Linked DNA regions of Homo sapiens: region 2 is linked to region 1. Evidence: fine-mapped expression QTL. A gene starts in region 1. The other region holds a variant in brackets. All regions are shown on one strand. Distances are between the middles of the regions.

Region 1 (8,548 bases):
CTCCAGAGATAGAGAGAACCAGTCCAGGATAAGAAAGAATATCTAACATTCAGAGCTGTTTAACATGAGAACAGGTGCTAAATATAGGCCACTTGCCATTAAAAAACTCAGATTACAGAAAGTGTTCTGGGGTTGGATGAGGGATACAACAACCACATCAGTGATTGTTAACTTTTGGGAGTCACAGATGTCTTTGAAAATCTGGTAAAAAGTTCTGGATCTCCTTCCCCGGAAAAATGGTCCAAAGCGTAACATTTTGCAAATAATTTCAGGTGCTTCATGGATGCTAGGTAATGATCACCTGATGAGCCTTCTAGGATGCTATGGTCAACCTTCCTTTTCCCTGTCAATCATGAGACAGAAGGCATTCGTCACTGTCATCTGTATCTTCAGAATTCACAATTCCCACCTAAAGCACATGATTCATATTCGAAAGCTCAGTGTTTTTGCCACAAACTAAATGCTCTGTTTTTTTTGTTAAATTAATGAATAAATAAAATATTTTATTGATCTGATCTTTAACGAAAGATATGTGCTACAAGAAGGAGAAAAGAGAAGGAAAAAAAAGAAAATGAGTTTTTGAAAAAGATCAACACAAGATGTCATAAAATCGGGAGAGGCTAATTAGCATCAGAAAAAAAACAAGGATAAATTTTGGATGGTGTGAACTTCCAGCCTCTTGCCCAGGGGTGAGCGTCCCAGGGCAGGGAACGTCTAACCTGCAGACCCCTGCTGTTGTATGGGCCCTGCCTAGCTTGCCCTTCTGAGTGACAGTGGCACATCCCCAGGGGCCACTGGGGAAAATCACTCATAAGGATCCGCGATCCATTGTGACATGTCCAGATGATATTTGAATTTGACTTTTTTTTTTCTTTTTGGAGACACAGCCTGTCTTTTTCACCCAGGCTGGAGTGCAGCAGCACAATCTCGGCTCACTGCAACCTCCACTTCCTGGGTTCAAGCGATTCTTCTGCCTCAACCTCCTGAGTAGCTGGGACTGCAGGCGTGCACCACTATGCCTAATTTTTGTATTTTCAGTAGAGATGGGGTTTCACCATGTTGGCCAGGCTGGTCTTGAACTCCTAGCCTCAAGTAATCTGCCCTCCTCCGCCCATGAGCCACTGCACCTGGCCTCAAATTTGATTTTAAAACCTCTTTCCCTATTTGAGAATTTAGGTCTCTATTATTATGCAACCAGTGGCTACTCTATTATGACATATTGCTTCATTCACACTTGGTAACGAGCTATTAAATGAAGTATGTTGAGATTTTTTTCTTAGAGTATCATCATTATTATTATTATTATTATTGAGACAGGGTCTCACTCTGTTGCCCAGACTGGAGTGCAGTGGCGCGATCTTGGCTCACTGCAACCTCTACCTCTTGGGCTCAAGCGATTCTCCTGCCTCAGCCTCCCAAGTAGCTGGGACTACAGGCACATGCCACCATGCCCGGCCAATTTTTTGATTATTAGTAGAAATGGGGTGTTGTGATGTTGCTCTCCAACTCCTGGGCTCAAGGGATTCCCCCACCGTGGTCTCCCACAGTGCTGGGATTACAGGCATGAGCCACCGGGCCAAGCCAGCATTTCTTGTTTGATAGACTAAGCGTAAATTTCTCAAGGATCAGCTGGTTCTTCTAGTTTGTATGAGCAAAGATATGCTGCTCTGTCTGGATCAAGATCTCTTGCTGTCTCCGCGCTCAGCCCCATGGGCTCTCGCCTGCAGACACATGCAGCTGCGAGATTTCAGGAGGCTCCACAGGCTCTGCAGGGCCTCGGGCAGCCCCTCCCCAGTGAGGGCACTGCAGCCCCGGAGCTCCCAGCAGTGGTCCTGGAATCTCTCTAGACTCAGCCTGTTTCTGATCTTAAGCAGCGGAAGTGCATCAGGTGCCTCCTGCTTGTTGGCCAGCACCAAGAAGGGGACGCCAGCCATGTTGGGGTCGTTCAGGACTTCTGTGAGCTCAGCCGCCGACTCGGGTAAGCGGGCTTCATCTGTGCTGTCCAGCACGTACACGAGGATATCTGTGCCTTCCAGATAGTCCTTCCAGCTGGCTCTGAGCGGGGCCTGCCCCCCAACGTCCCAGAGAGTCAGTGACACGTGCCCAGGAGCTTTCAGAGGCTCCACGTTGAAACCAACAGTGGGCAGGGTCTCCACCAGCTGGTGGCCCTTCAGCTTGTAAAGGAGCGTGGTCTTGCCCGCCGAGTCCAGGCCCATCATCACCACCTGGGCTTCCGCCTTGTGACCTCTGGAATTCACAGAACCCATGGTGGCCACTGCTGAATCCTAGGGGAGAAAGGCCAGGGCACACATCAGCTACTGTCTTCTGAAGGAAGACAAATCCATCCTGGTGCAGTGGCTCACACCTGTAATCCCAGCACTGTGGGAGGCCAAGGCAGGAGGATCACTTGAGCCCAGGAGTTTCAAACAAGCCGAGGCAACAAAGCAAGGACCCGCCTTCTCTACAAAAATTGAAATTAAAAATGGAGCACAAATCTGTGCAGGCAAACAACGGAAGAGTTTTTCCAAAACAGGAAAAGTCTTCACAGGGTCAGATTTTAAACAGATGCCTGGGCTTTGAAGGAAGTGAGGATGTGTGAGTCACCATCAGCTAACCTGTCTCTGGGTCAGATAAGAGTGGTCCCTGAGCAGAGAAGATCAGGGGCCTCCTGGAAGACATTCCTGAGGAGTTAAAGCAAAGAGGCAAAATGAAGTTCCAGTCAGACAGAGCTGGTTCAGTAGAAATTACAGAACGATGTCTTCAATTCTTGCTGGTCTGTGGCTTCTAACCTCTTCTCCTCCTATAAGCCTAAATGCTGAAATGGAAGCTAAGCTGGGTTCCATGCACAGAGTGAGAAGGATGGTTCAGCTCACGGTGACCTCTCTTTAGAGCTTCCCAAGGACCAGTACTATGTCTTGGAAACACAGTGAGGTGTCACTTAATGACGGGGACACATTCTGAGAAATGCTTCATTAGGCAATTTCATCATTTTACAAAATCATAGATTGTAATTACACAAACGTGGATGGTCTAGTCTACTCCACACCTAGGCTATATGGTATGGCCCATTGCTCCTGGGCTACACACCGGTACAGCATTCCTGTAATGGGTACTGTAGGCTATTGTAACACAGTGCTAAGTATTCGTGTATCTAAACATAGAAAAGGTAGTGGTTGCACCACAACACTAAGCTGAAAAATAGGAATTTTTCAGCTCTGTTATAATCTTATGGGACCACCGTTGTATATGTGGTCTGTCGTTGACTGAAATGTCTTCATGCAGTGCCTGACTGGGGCTATTTATAAATACTGTTTACTGGGGGCAAATTTATGAGTCAGAGCAAAGCAGTTTCCTCCACTGTCTTACCAAGGTCAATGACTTCTACAACACTCCACATGTGCTTTTTTGTTTGTTTTTGGGTTTTTTTGTTTTGTTTTGTTTTGTTTTGTTTTGAGACAGGGTCTCACTCTGTCGCCCAGGCTGGACTGCAGTGGCATGATCACAGCTCACTGCAGCCTCGACTTCCCAGGCTCAAGCCATCCTCCCACCTCAGCCTCCCCAGTAGCTGGGACTATGGGCATGTGCCATCACACATTTTTGTTGTTGTTTTGAGACAGGGTCTCACTGTGTCACCCAGACTGGAGTGCAGTGGTGCAATCTTGGCTCATCACAACCTCTGCCTCCCTGCAACCTCCGCCTCCTAGGTTCAAGGGATTCTCCTGCCTCAGCCTCCCGAGTACCTGGGATTACAGCTACTACTACCACCCAGCTACTTTTTGTATTTATATTAGAGACGAGGTTTCACCATGTTGGCCTGGCTGGTATTGAACTCCTGACCTCAAATTATCCACCTGCCCGGCCTCCCAAAGTGCTGGGATTACAGGCGTGAGCCACTGTGCCCAGCCACATATGTTTTTAAAGAATCCCAAATTTTAAGACATAAGACCTGTTCCCAACTTAGACGATGCCTGCGTGGAACAGAGAAGAGACATCTCAACTTCCGGGAATGGGGGTGGGGGGATATGAGCTGCCTCTGGAAGGAGGTAAGCCTCTACTCATCCCTACTCCCAAGGGTAGAAAAGTAAAAAGTTAAAATTACCTCTGTGTTACTATTAGACTGCAGCTGTGAGATCCTGCGTGGCTCTCCTCCCCTATGGAGCTGCTTTCTGCTGGCCAGGCATGACCCAAGAGCGAGATGGGAAGGAAGCAGAGCAGCCGTTGCTGCTTCTCCTTTTTGTGCTTCCTTTTCCCAGGTGGCTGGGGGGCGGGGCTGGTGTCACGGCCCCTCCCTCAGCCCTAGGGCGCCTCAGAGCAGTCATCTTGCTGGGCTTGCCACAGAGAGGTCCCCGGCTCTGCAGGTCCTGGCAGAGCAAGGCCCAGTGACAGCTCCATTTTTTAGCAACTCAGACTTGGGTGCCTGAAGGAGGGAGCACGAGCTCGGAGCTGTGTCCAAGCGCAGCCGCCTTCTCTCTTCCCTCAGGATCCTCTGAGCTCCTCGCAGAGAATTCTGACCTCTTCCTTTCAGTACATGCCTCAAGGTTTTTCTGGTGGCTAGAGATTCTCTGATTTGCTTGGAATCACACATGGTTTGTTGTTGTTGTTGTTGTTGTTTTGTTTTGTTTTCTATTTGAGACCGAGTCTTGCTCTGTCGCCCAGGCTGGACAGCAGCCTCCGCCTCCAGGGCTCAAGCGATCCTCCCTCCTCAACCTCCTAAGCAAGTGGGATTATAGGCAGGTGCCACCATGCCCAGCTGATTTTTGTATTTTTCATAAAGACAGGTTTCACCATGATGGCCAGGCTGCACATGTGTTCTTTTAAAAGCTGCCTATGGCCAGGCGTGGTGGCTCAGGCCTGTAATCCCAACATTTTGGGGGGCTGAGGTGGGTGGATCACGAGGTCAGGAGTTCGAGACCAGCCTGGCTAACATGGTGAAACCCCGTCTCTACTAAAAATACAAAAATTAGCTGGGCGTGGTGGCACCTACCTGTAGGCCCAGCTATTTGGGAGGCTGAGGCAGGAGAATGGCATGAACCCGGGAGGCGGAGGTTGCAGTGAGCCCAGATCACACCACTGCACTCCAGCCTTGGTGACAGAGCGAGACTCTGCCTCAAAACAAAAACAAAAACAAAAAACAAAAAAAGCTGTCTACATATGATGAAAACATTCTTTAAAAGGTATGTATGATGCAGATCAACCTTTAAAATTGTGTTAATGTAGTGATTAAAGTTACCGTTCAATTTTTTCTTGAATGGTGTCACTGTGTTTTTCCCAGTAAAAATGACACCTCTAGAAAATGTAATTTTTAAAAAATTGGCTAGTCGCCGGGCATGGGGGCTCATGCCTGTAATCCCAGCACTTTGGGAGGCCAAGGCAGGAGGATCGCTCAAGCTCAGGAGTTCAAGACCAGCCTGGCCAATATGGTGAAACCACGTCTCTACAAAAAATAATAAATTAACCAGGCATGGTGATGTGTGCCTGTAGTTCCAGGTACTTGGGAGATTGAGGCCCAAGAACTGCATGAGCCCAGGAGGTGGAGGCTGCAGTGAGCTGAGATCACAGCACTGCACTCCAGCCTAGAAGACAGAGTGAGACTCTGTCTCTCTCCTATTTTTTTTTTTTAATTGAGATGGAGTCTCGCTCTGGCGCCCAGGCTGGAGTGCAATGGCACAATCTCGGCTCACTGCAACCTCCGCCTCCTAGGTTCAAGCAATTCTCCCACCTCAGCCTCCCGAGTACCTGGGATTACAGGCACGTGCTACCATGCCTGGATAATTTTTTTATTTTCAGTAGAGACAGGGTTTTGCCATGTTGGCCAGGCTGGTCTCCAGCTTCTAATCTCGAGTGATCTGCCCGCCTCGGCCTCCCAAAGAGCTGGGATTACAGGTGTGAGCCACTGCACCCAGCCGAGACTCTGTCTCAAAAAAAAAAAGAAAAAAAGAAAAAAAATTGACTAGTCAGAAACCACTGATTCAGTAGGTATTGAATTTGGATATGGAGTCACAGTGATTTAGCTCTTATAACCAGTAATCTTTGTGCTGTTTTCTGCTTTCCCATGCATTATTTCATTAAAATATCAAGACTCAAGTTGGATGTTATGACTCTTCCATTTTACAAGAAAAGAAGCAGGCTCGGTTGGAAGGCCGAGGCGGGCAGATCACAAGGTCAAGAAATCGAGACCATCCTGGCCAACATGGTGAAACCCCATCTCTACTAAAAATACAAAAATTAGCTGGGCATGGTGGCGCACACTTGTAGTCCCAGCTACTCGGGTGGCTGAGGCAGGAGAATCGCTTGAACCCGGAAGGCGGAGGTTGCAGTGAGCTGAGATCGCGCCACTGCACTCCAGCCTGGTGACAGAGCAAGACTCTGTCTCAAAAAAAAAAAAAAAGAAGCAGGCTGGGACAGGGTGAATCATTGACTCATGATCTTGCTGCGTTTTATAATTCATCTCTTTCTCTTTTACCATGTCATGCTACTCACACAGAAAGTGCCTTGTAAATGGCAAACACCAGATTGTTGTTGTCATTGTTTTTGTTAAGCTACTGTATTTTAGCAGGAAGAACTGATTAGGAAAAGTCAGAAACTCAAAGTGTGTTATGTGCACCACTGTGTGAGGGTATTGATGCTGCTCTTGGTTTGCTCTTTTCAGTGCCTGTGGTCAGTGATCATCCTTTTTCAAGGCCAGGGGGTGTGTGGGGAGGAGACAGAAACAGATAGAGTGCTCCTGGGGGTGGAATTATCCCAGGGAAGTCTCAGAGCAATAAAGAATCGTCTGGTGGAGGGCTTGTCATTCTCGCCCAAACTGCAGCGGGATCGGCTCACGCTGGGACTAAGTCCTGTCCGGGCCCAGCTGCTGAGTCAGCAGGAATCCTGCAAGGGCCCGATTTGCAGGAAGATTGGGGCCGGACGAGGATGACAGCAGGCCAAGGTTGAGGGGCTCCTGGGGGTGGGGGAGCTGGGGTGCTGCTCTGACCCAGTTCCCAGAGCAGCACCAGGGCTAGGTTTGGGCCCCATGGAGGCAGGGAGGGAGCAGAAGCTGTAGAAGCATTAGCACAGTGGCTTGGAGGCACCATGCCAGGCTGCCTGGGTGACCTATGCCCTGGGTGACACAGAGAGAGAAGGGACACTCCCCTTGGCCTCTAGCCTGGAGCTTGGGGCCACATGGCCAGGCTGCAGGCTGCCTCTGGAGGTAGCTGCGTGGCACTGACCACAGAATCTGAGACAGGCACCGCCATCAAGGGGCCGGCTGGCAGTCAGGGGTGGATCTGTGAGCACTGCTGGGGGGCACAGGCTCCCCCAGACATCAAGGAGCCTTGCCTGAGGGCCAAAGTCTTGTGTTCGCTGGGAAACCATGATTACTTTGTGACCCCAGTTCTGCCCAAAGGCCCTTGTGGCCTGAGTTTCTCTGTACAGCCCCGACCCTGACCCCTTCAGCTCAACCAGCAGGGAAGCTTTTCATTAGACACCCCAACGTGGGGAGGCTCACGAGGGCTACTGCCCCGGGAGGCAGCGCAGAGCAGAAGGTAACAGTGTGGCTTTGATTTGGGTCCACCTGGGGGCACACTTGGCCTCCACTGCTTATTTGCTGTGAACCTCAACCTGAATTTCTCTGCACCTCAGTTTCCTTCTCTATAAAATGAGGTTGATGACGATAATAATGGTACCTAACTTGAAGGGTTATTGGAAGGATTTAATAAGTGAAGACACATCAAGTACTTAGCCCAAAGCCTGGCGTCTAGTCCCAGACTAGTTCTGTTAGAGAAGGACAGGAGAGCCCTCAAACGTAGTGGTGTGGCTGGAGAAAGTGACGCTGGTGAATGTGCAAGCCCCAGCACCTTTGTGTGTCTGTGACTGCAGCTTCCAGACCTGGAATAAGGAAAAGGGGCTACACGGGGCTCACTGATACCAGGAGAGACAAAGGTCTTAGGCCCCATCTCTACTGCCCTAAGAGTGTGAGTTTAGAAATGTCCTCCTGCCAACTCTCATACAGGTGGTCAGGCCTGGAGGAGCACGGCACGCCCATTGCACTCACCAAAAAATAACTTGTAAGCCAGGATGCTTCTTCTGATGTTTCTTATGGGATCTGTTTGACCCAAGAGCTGGGGCGGTTTTCTGTGCAGCACAGCTAAGGGAAGGCAGGGGGCCAGGGGCACGCAGAGGACACACACAGGGACTGAAGGAGTCAACTGTAGGGACGACATCCAAATGGGTTGCTGGAAGACCATGGAAAGTTGGTGGTTTTTAAGGGGTTGTTTATCATGCAACAGAGCCTCGTGGTCACTTTTCTGCTCTCTACAGATAGGTCCAAAGGAGGAGAGTGCTAGAACAAGAGCTTTATTCTCCTGGAAAGTGCTAGAGAAACATGGACGGAGTCTCTTGTCCAGCCCTCCTTTCCCTGGGCTCCATAACGGCCCCCACCTTTTTATCTTGTTGTGACCTCCTCTTGCTCTGGTCTCTCACTTTCTCAACTTGCAATATGCAAATTAATAACTTTTTTCCAGGGACTGCCTCTTTTAAAAATCAAATTCTATTTCTTTCTATTTTCAAG
Region 2 (8,548 bases), 94 kb after region 1:
AAATCCTACAAATATTACAGATTCAACGTAGAAAAATTAGAGAATAGAAAGAAGACAAAAAGAAAGACTCACCTCTTTATTTCTAGGGCATATATATATATGTGTGTGTGTGTGTATATATATATATTCATAATTTGTATGTATTTTTTTTTCCTGGTGATACAGGGTCTTGTTCTGTTGCCCAGGCTGAAGCACAGTGGTGTGATCACAGCTCACTGTAGCCTCAACTTCCTGGGCTCAAGTAGTCCTCCTTCCTTCCCAGTCCAGGAACTGGGACTACGGATGTGTGCCACCACACCCAGCTAATTTCTTATTTTTTATTTGTTGTAGAGACAGGGTTTCATTATGTTGCCCAGGCTGGTCTTGAACTTCTGGGCTCAAGTGTCCCTCCCACCTCAGCCTTCCAAAGTGCTGGGATTATAGGCATGAGCCACTGCGCCAGGCCTCTTTCTAGGGTGTATTTCTTAGGTTACAATACAAGTTACGTAATTGACTAATGTGCTTTTACATTTTATTTCCTGAATGCTACAAGATACAGTGAGTACATGAATGAAGTTCTGGAGTACAAAATTAAAATCCATAGCTGGGCACAGTGGCTCATGCCTGTATTCTAGCTACTCAGGATGCTGAAGTGGGAGGATTGCTTGAGGCTAGGAGTTTGAGACCAGCCTGGACAACATAGTGAGACTGCCATCTCTTAAAAAGAAAGCCCTCTTACTGTGTTTATTAGTTGATTGGAGGCTACTGATGAGTCAGGTTAGAAATTGACTGCAAAAACTATTATTTTTAGAGCTCAACTTGGGGATGCTAGATGACTTTGCCTTCGTGCTGTGGGCCAAAATGCTAGGAAGATGGAGACTACCTGCTTCCAATGTTTCTTGTCTTTCTACGAAAGTACCTGAGGTTCCTCCATGCCCCGTTTTGACAAGATAGCTTTGAAGCAAATGTACACACATTAAAGCAACAAAAATGTATGGACTCAGTAGTTACAGGGAGTTTCAAAAGTAAGTTGATGATTGTGGATCCCTTGCTATGAACGTGTTATGAAACTGTCCACAAGTTTTATTAAGAAGGACTTCACAAAGGAGCACCCAGATACTCCTTTGGTACAGACCTGAATAAATATTGACATCAGGGAGAAAATGTGGATAAAACATTGTTTCAAGATAGATCAGTTGCACAATGCAAACTGATTCTTTTCAGGAAATTTTTTATTTTTATGTGTATTTGAACGTTAAGAGAAACAGCTGGGAAGTATTATTTGTTTAACCAGAGTAGAGAACTTTCCAGAAATCCTGTGTGCTAAGCAACTTATATCTTACGATCTTGCTTTTGGAGGGAAGCGATAAACGTGAGCCCAGGAATCTAATTCTGAAGTTGGTCTGGGGTATGAGTATTGGACAGCTTGGTGTTAAGGCTTGGTGGCCAGCGTTTTTTTCTTCTTTTGGTGGGCCAAATGAAAAGTCTTTGATCAGCAGTAGGCTGACAAATGTTTTTTGCGTAATGGGATAAATTATGTTTTCTCCATATGGTAGAATGTTTAAGTACATTTTGAGAACAAAACAAAACTTCTTTGATTTGGAATATTTTGTACTTGATGTGCTATAACATGAATTATAGACTGACAGTTTTGGGGTTTTGTCTTGCAGTTACTTTAACAACAGGTTGGACAGAGTTAGGTGTGGTTCGTGATCTTGTGTCATCTGGAATGTGTCTTGTGGGGAGCTGTGATGCCGAGGCACCTGCTCACCCTGGTTAGGTGGTCTTCAAATTATTAACATTCAACTAGTTTAGCTTTGGAGTTTTAGGACAGGGTAAGAACTCCCTTAGAGGCGGCATTAGCATTTTTTAAAATGAGGATATTAAGACCATCAATGCTCTGTGTTTTGTTTTGTTACTAAAGAAAATTTGTGGAAAGGAAAAACAGCTTATTTTCAGAGTATATATATTGAATTGGAATAGTTTCAATGTTGAAAGATTTGGAATGATTTATAAATTACTTCAGAAGAGCAGTTTTTATTTTTGTCTTCTTTGCTAATGACAATAAATCTGGTATTTTATCTCATTTGCCTTAGAACACTTTATAATTGTTCTGCCACATAACGTCATAAACAGAGTTTAGTTTCTAATACCAAGAAGACTGTATTAGACCCTTCTGTTTTTATACTCTCCACTTCCCTATTCCATGGGCTATAAGAGGACTTTCATTCTGTCGGGAACTTTGTTCATCTCCTGGTCACATGATCCTTCTGGTCCTCCTTGGAACTGTTTTATTTAAAGCCCAGTTAGAAGTAAGAAGTCAACTATAACCAGCCCTGTTATAGTTGACTTCTCACTTGGACAGGAGTTGCATTTTCTTGCCTGTTATTGAAGATTTGATCCTTTGCAGAATGAAAGGAACAGATTATGTAGATTCTTATAATACTAAAGAGAGGTCAAGTCGGAAGGGCGTTTGTCTAACTTGCTCATCAAAGGCAAACCAACCCTGGGCACTGGTTGCTAAGTGGTTCAGCTTGACTGTGCGACTCTCTGGTGAACTTGCAAATTCAAACGTCCCTCACCACATGCGTTCAGGGCTTCCTTTTACATAGATCTGCCTCAACCAAGGTTTAATTAGTTACTTACACAACCCAGATTTAGATTGTTTTCAGAATTCTCTAGTTTGGCTTTTAATGTTTGGAACTTTTGAATATTTATTGCATACCCAGATACCTCAGTAGTTCAAACTAATTGGAGGGGAAGGGAAGGCAGTTTGATAGAACCATTTTCATGAGTGTATAAAGTGAATTGTGATTAGTGGCACCATTTTTATACCTATATTGTGTATAAAAGTTCTTTTTTTTTTTTTTTGAGATGGAGTTTCACTCCTGTCTCCCAGGCTGGAGTGCAGTGGCATGATCTCGGCTCACTGCAACCTCCGCCTCCTGGGTTCAAGCGATTCTCCTGCCTCAGCTTCCTGAGTAGCTGGGATTACAGGTGCTTGCCACCACACCTGGCTAATTTTTGTATTTTTAGTAGAGACGGGGTTTCACCATGTTGGTCAAGCTGGTCTCAAACTCCTGACCTCGTGATCTGCCCGCATCAGCCTCCCAAAGTGCTGAGATTACAGGCGTGAGCCACCACGCCTGGCCTGTGGTTTATCTCTTAATGGTTATGTGACTGGATGGGTTTCTGGAGTTTACTCTAGGGCATCTTTTAGCCAGGGACAGGAGGACCCTTAGAACAAGGAAATCATTGTTTGCAGAGGTCTGTGCTGAGAGCAGAAAAGGGGTCTCTCCATGTTTGTGTGGGCCCCTTCCACTCTGTCTAACATTCCCACCTCGTGGTAGCTGGAAATGTGCGGTCAAAACCTGCAGTTGAAATGTTGAGCTTCTGGTTCGATAGAACCCGGAGTGCTGACCTTCAATGTACCAGCTAACCAAGTTGTAATAAAGTCAAGCTATTTGTGATAAGAGCTTTTAGTGTGATTTCCTTTTATATATTGAGTCTTTGTATGCATTCCAGGTGCCTAATCGATTTAATAAATATATATTCCAACATCCTAAGGGACAGACTATATTAAAGTTTGGCAGGGGATGAAAGGGTGGATTAGCATAGGCAGGGATTGATTTTGAAATGGTTCTGGTTTACCCCTTGTGGATGTTACTCCCCTGAATGTTGGTAGTTGGTGACTTCTGTTTGACTGAAAACTAACCTGTGTAAATATACTTCTGTGGGGGTGATGTTCTGAGATATTAGTGTGGTGGAAGTTGTAGTGTTATTATTCTTTATGGCTTTAAAAATAAAGTCATTATTAGGAGAGCATAAAAGTGAATTTAAGGTGAATTTTTTGGGATTTTCTTTCAGAGCCTCTGCTCTGTCACCCAGGCTAGAGTGCAGTGGTGCGATCTCGGCTCACCGCAACCTCTGCCTCCCAGGCTCAAACGATTCTCCTGTCTCAGTCTCCTGAGTAGCTGGGATTACAGGCATCCACCACCACGCCCGGCTAATTTTTGTAGTTTTACTAGAGACGGGGTTTCCCTATGTTGGCCAGGCTGGTCTCGAACTCCTGACCTCAAGTGATCCGCCCGCCTCGGCCTCCCAAAGTGCTGGGATTACAGGCGTGAGCCACCGTGCCCGGCTGGGATTTTCTTTTTAATGTGCCACTTTAGG[T/C]TGACCATATCTCTTCATTACCTTTCTGTTTCTTAAACTAACCCACATCTTAATTCTTTTCTCTGATGTCTTGAACGTGACAAAACACATTCTGCAGACTAAAGTGGCATTCTGCCTTTTACAACAATGTCTTTGAGCATAACTAGATTATGTGATAATCGTGCAGGAAATTCTTTCCCTTGTAGATCTTGCGTGTGTGTGTGTGTGCGCGCGCGTGTGTGTTTTGAAGAGTCGTACTTTGAGTTAGAGGACCATTGCTTTTACTGCGTTGAATAAATAGTATGTGTTTTTCTCACACCTACCTGTGGTCACCTTTTTGCCTAGTTTTAGGTATCTGGCCTCTCAAATATCTTTTCTGGGGGAGGGTGAGAGATTTGGGGTAAAGGGCTCAGAGAGAAGTAATTCAATCAAAGTTGCCTAAAAAAGCCATTTTTGTTTTTATTTTTGTTGTGTGTCCAGGATTTAGAAGAATTCTGCTTTAAGTTTTGCATCAATCATTTGACAGAAGTTACACAGACTGCAGCATTTTGGCAAATGGATGGCCCTCTGCTAAAGGAATTCATTGCTAAAGCCAGTAAATGTGGAGCCTTTAAGAACTGAAGCGCAAGGCTGCTGGGTTCTGTGTGAGTGCTCTGGGGCACTGTTGAGGATGTGTCCAGTTTGTGCTCTACGGGTGATGTGATTCTGCAGGTAAAAGACCATCAGGTTGTTTTTTTCCACATCTGGGACACAGTTGTTTGTGTAGGAACATAACAAGGGTGTACGGCTTTTCTTGAGCCCATTTTAAACAACCCTTGTTTCCAGATAAGTGTATTTTAAATGTGACCTTTCGTAAATTTGGGCTGGAACATGTAAAAGGGTGAAAGTTAGTCGTTTTTGGTCTTCTTTTCATTTTTGATTAGAGGAACTTCTGAACTTGGAAAGGGGAAGTTGGCAGCAACTCTCCTGGGCCACGTATCAACAATCTTCTGACAGCAGGAGCAGTGATAGTTGGGGAATTGTGAGATGAATGGAGAGGCCCCATCGTGAATTAAAGATGCTGACCTGGGGATTGTTAAGTGCTGCCTTAGTTGCTAGTTTAGTAGCCTTACTGTGAAGGAATAATTAAGATTGTTTCAGACTTTTGTTTGTGTGCTTGCGTTGATGACTTTTTTAACTTCAAGATAAATCAAAGTAATAAGTTTAACGTATATTAAACCTGTTGAAATGATAATTATGTAAAGATAAATATTCTAGGTTAGTCAAGATTTCTCTTAAGATTTAAGTGCATAAAGAATAGTAATTTAGAAGTATCCGTGAAAAGTTGATAATGAAAGAAATTTGATGAAGGTGAATATTTTATAAATTAGAATCTCCACTACTTATCCAATGGTGTTTTATTTCATTAAGGTAGAACTTGAGAACTCAAGTTTAAATTGTCCCCCACCACCTTCTTCTATAAATGCAAACTTAAGAGGAAAATAATGACATGTATAGTATACTCTTGCCTTCCTAAATTATGACTGCTGAATCATCATATCTACTATATATGACTGGAAGAAGTGGTTCTTCAAGTCAACCCTCTTACAAGACTTAGTGGAATTTGCTTTATCTACTTTAGGCCAAATCCATCACACATTGGCTTATGTGAAACTTTATCATCTTTCACTTTTGGTTTTCCTCTGTTTTTAAACATCTTAGGTATAACAGCACAATTTCACCTTGAAAAAGCACCAAAATTATGGTGTTCCTGAAAAGATCCTATTAAAAGACAGTAGTTTATTTGAACTGGTTATGGAAGGTGACTTTGGGATGTAAGAGTGTTCAACTGTGAGTTTCATCATGTGTGTCCGTTGAGCTTGCTTTTAAGAGCAATGTTTTGCTTTGCTCTCTGGTCCATGAACTCATTTCCATTTGAGTGAGTTCCCTTAGTGAATTTTGTCTCCTGCTTGGAAAGTCTCTCTTCTGAACCTGGAGCCTGAATACATTTTCAGAGCCAAATTACAAGTGGGTGAAGACATGCTACAACTACTATTTTTAGCAATGTTTTTAAATTTGTGTCTATTGGGGTGGGAAGGGGAGTGAGGCCCTAAAGATAGGAATTCACTGATAGCTGAAATAGATACAAGCCTAGGAGCCCCAGCCCCCTTTTCTTGACCATATCACAAGTGATTGAAGCCCAGTGAATTAGTCGGTTAGAATTCGTTCTACAACATGATAGAACTTTTCTTACTAGCTTCAGAAATGCACATTGATTTGTGCTATGATGGGTGGTGTTTGTAACAATCACTGTTCTATAGGCTTATGATCTGAGCAAAATGTGAACTTCAGTATGTTTACTATTGCTCTTACTTGAAAACTTTTTTTCAAAAAAAGCACAAATTAAAGTAGTAAATTCATATCCATAGATAGTTCATTCATTCAACAAATATTTACCAAGTTCCTAATATAAGTGAAGGACCACTTCTCATATTAGATTACTAAGTCATTTGTATGAATATGTGTGGCAGTGAAGAGAACAGGTCTTTCAAAAAGCATTTGATTATTTTTTTTAAATACACTCTCTTATTTTTCTACTTGTTTTTTTGTTAATCATAGCAGGATATGACAACTCTTATTTGAATTGATTTTTTCATCTAATGTAATAATGGAAGCCAAAGTATTCATATTTCTTAAGATAGCCCTAAATGTACTCTTGAACTTCTTACTGGAACAATGTTTGATACTCTAGTATGTAAGCTGTATTTATGTAATATTTAGAACGACATGTTAATAAACAAAGTAACATTAAAACAGGCACATAGAGTTGTTTTTTTCCTTCAAAATCAGTAGTCTGCAGCCTTAAAAAGGAAAGAAATTCTGACACATGGTGCACAGAGGTGAACTTGAGGATATTATGCTGGGTGAAATAAGCCACTCACAGAAAAATACTATGTGATGCCATTTGTGTGATATACTTAGTCAAATTCATTGAGACATAGTAGAATGGTCATTGCCAGGGTCTGAGGGGAGAGGAGAATGGGGAACTTGTTTAATGGATACAGAGTTTCAGTTTTCCAAGATGAAGAGTCCTTTAGGTCAGGGGTCCCCAACCCTCGGGCCACAGACCCATATTCATCCCTGGCGTGTTAGGAAGAGGTCGCACAGCGGGAGGTGAGTGGCGGATGAGTGAGCATTACTGCCTGAGTTCTGCCTCCTGTCAGATCAGTGGCAACATTAGAACATTAGATTCTCATAGGAGTGCAAACCCTACAGTGAACTGAGTATGCAAGGGATCTAGGTTGTGTGCTCCATATGAGAATCTAATGACTGGTGATCTGAGGTGGACCAATTTCATCCCAAAACCATCCTCCCCACCCCTGACCAACCGCCCCATCCCCATGGTCCGTGGAAAAATTGTCTTCCACGAAACCAGTCCCTGGTGCCAAAAAGGTTGGGGACTGCTGCTTTAGGTGCATGGTGGTGATGGTTGCACAAAAATGAATGTTTAATGCCATTGAACCATACATTTAAAAATGATTGGGATGGCAAATTTTAGGTTATATATATATTTTACCATAATAAAAAAAATCAGTGGTGTGATTCTTAATGGGTATCAGGCTAAAAATAGGTACCAGCATGAACATGTCAACTGCTTGATTCTCAACTATACACAAACAAACATCATAGAAATCTTTGGATTTTATTCCTGCTGAAGGGTAGTACAGTTGAACTGGCACAGTAGAAAAATGTGTCTGTACCTTTGGGGGTACTTGAAGGGAAAGGCATATTCCCTATCCTCAAAGAACATATGAATTATTAGGAGAGAGGGAGATAGGTTTAGGAATTAACAACACAATGAGATACTTATAAAGAGCTTTTCATAACAGTCAGTGAGAGAAAACCAAATAGGATGATGTGGTTTGGCTCTGTGTCCCCACCCAACTTATCTTGAATTGTAATCCTCAGTTGTTGAGGGAGACCTGTTGGGAGGTGATTGGATTATGGGGGCGGTTTCCCCATGCTGTTCTCATGCTATTGAGGGAGTTCTTATGAGATCTGATGGTTTTATAAATGGCAGTTCCCCCTGGGCTTTGCGTGCTCTCACTTACTTGCCACTACGTAAGACGGGCCTCTTCCCTTTCCGCCACAATTGTAAGTTTCTTGAGACCTCCCCAGCCATGCGGAACTGAGTCCATTAAACCTGTTTCCTTTATAAATTACCCAGTCTCTGGTATTTCTTCATACCAGTGTGAGAACGGACTAATACAGTTAATAGGGTTAACATGACAAGCAGTTAGTTGTTCTGAAGATAACGCTTGTGTTGGATAGGGGAAAATATAAAGTGTCCTTTTAGCTCATCTCCAAAACAAAAAGAGGCACAAGAGATGGGGGCTAATGAGCCTTCCAGAGCTTATCATAATTAAGTTTGGTTAGA

Evidence for each region. PIP is the estimated chance that this variant, and not a neighbour inherited with it, causes the effect. A credible set is the group of variants that fine-mapping cannot tell apart.
Region 2: its variant is the best candidate, but not a certain one, in a credible set for the expression of ARL11 in whole blood (TOPMed, PIP 0.86).

The regions. Positions count from the first base shown.
Region 1 is chr13:49,624,167-49,632,714 of GRCh38, reverse strand. ARL11 (ARF like GTPase 11) reads right to left here and starts at 4,208. Exons shown (of 2, transcript NM_138450.6): 1 at 4,100-4,208; 2 at 1-2,285. The coding sequence starts at 2,267. The coding sequence ends at 1,677. RefSeq lists an enhancer at 3,907-3,956.
Region 2 is chr13:49,530,326-49,538,873 of GRCh38, reverse strand. It overlaps RCBTB1 (RCC1 and BTB domain containing protein 1), which reads left to right. Exons shown (of 13, transcript NM_018191.4): 13 at 4,612-6,928. The coding sequence ends at 4,752. Among named protein-coding and RNA genes, the nearest start is that of PHF11, 39 kb to the right of the region's middle. The variant T/C (reference allele first, on the strand shown) is at 4,153.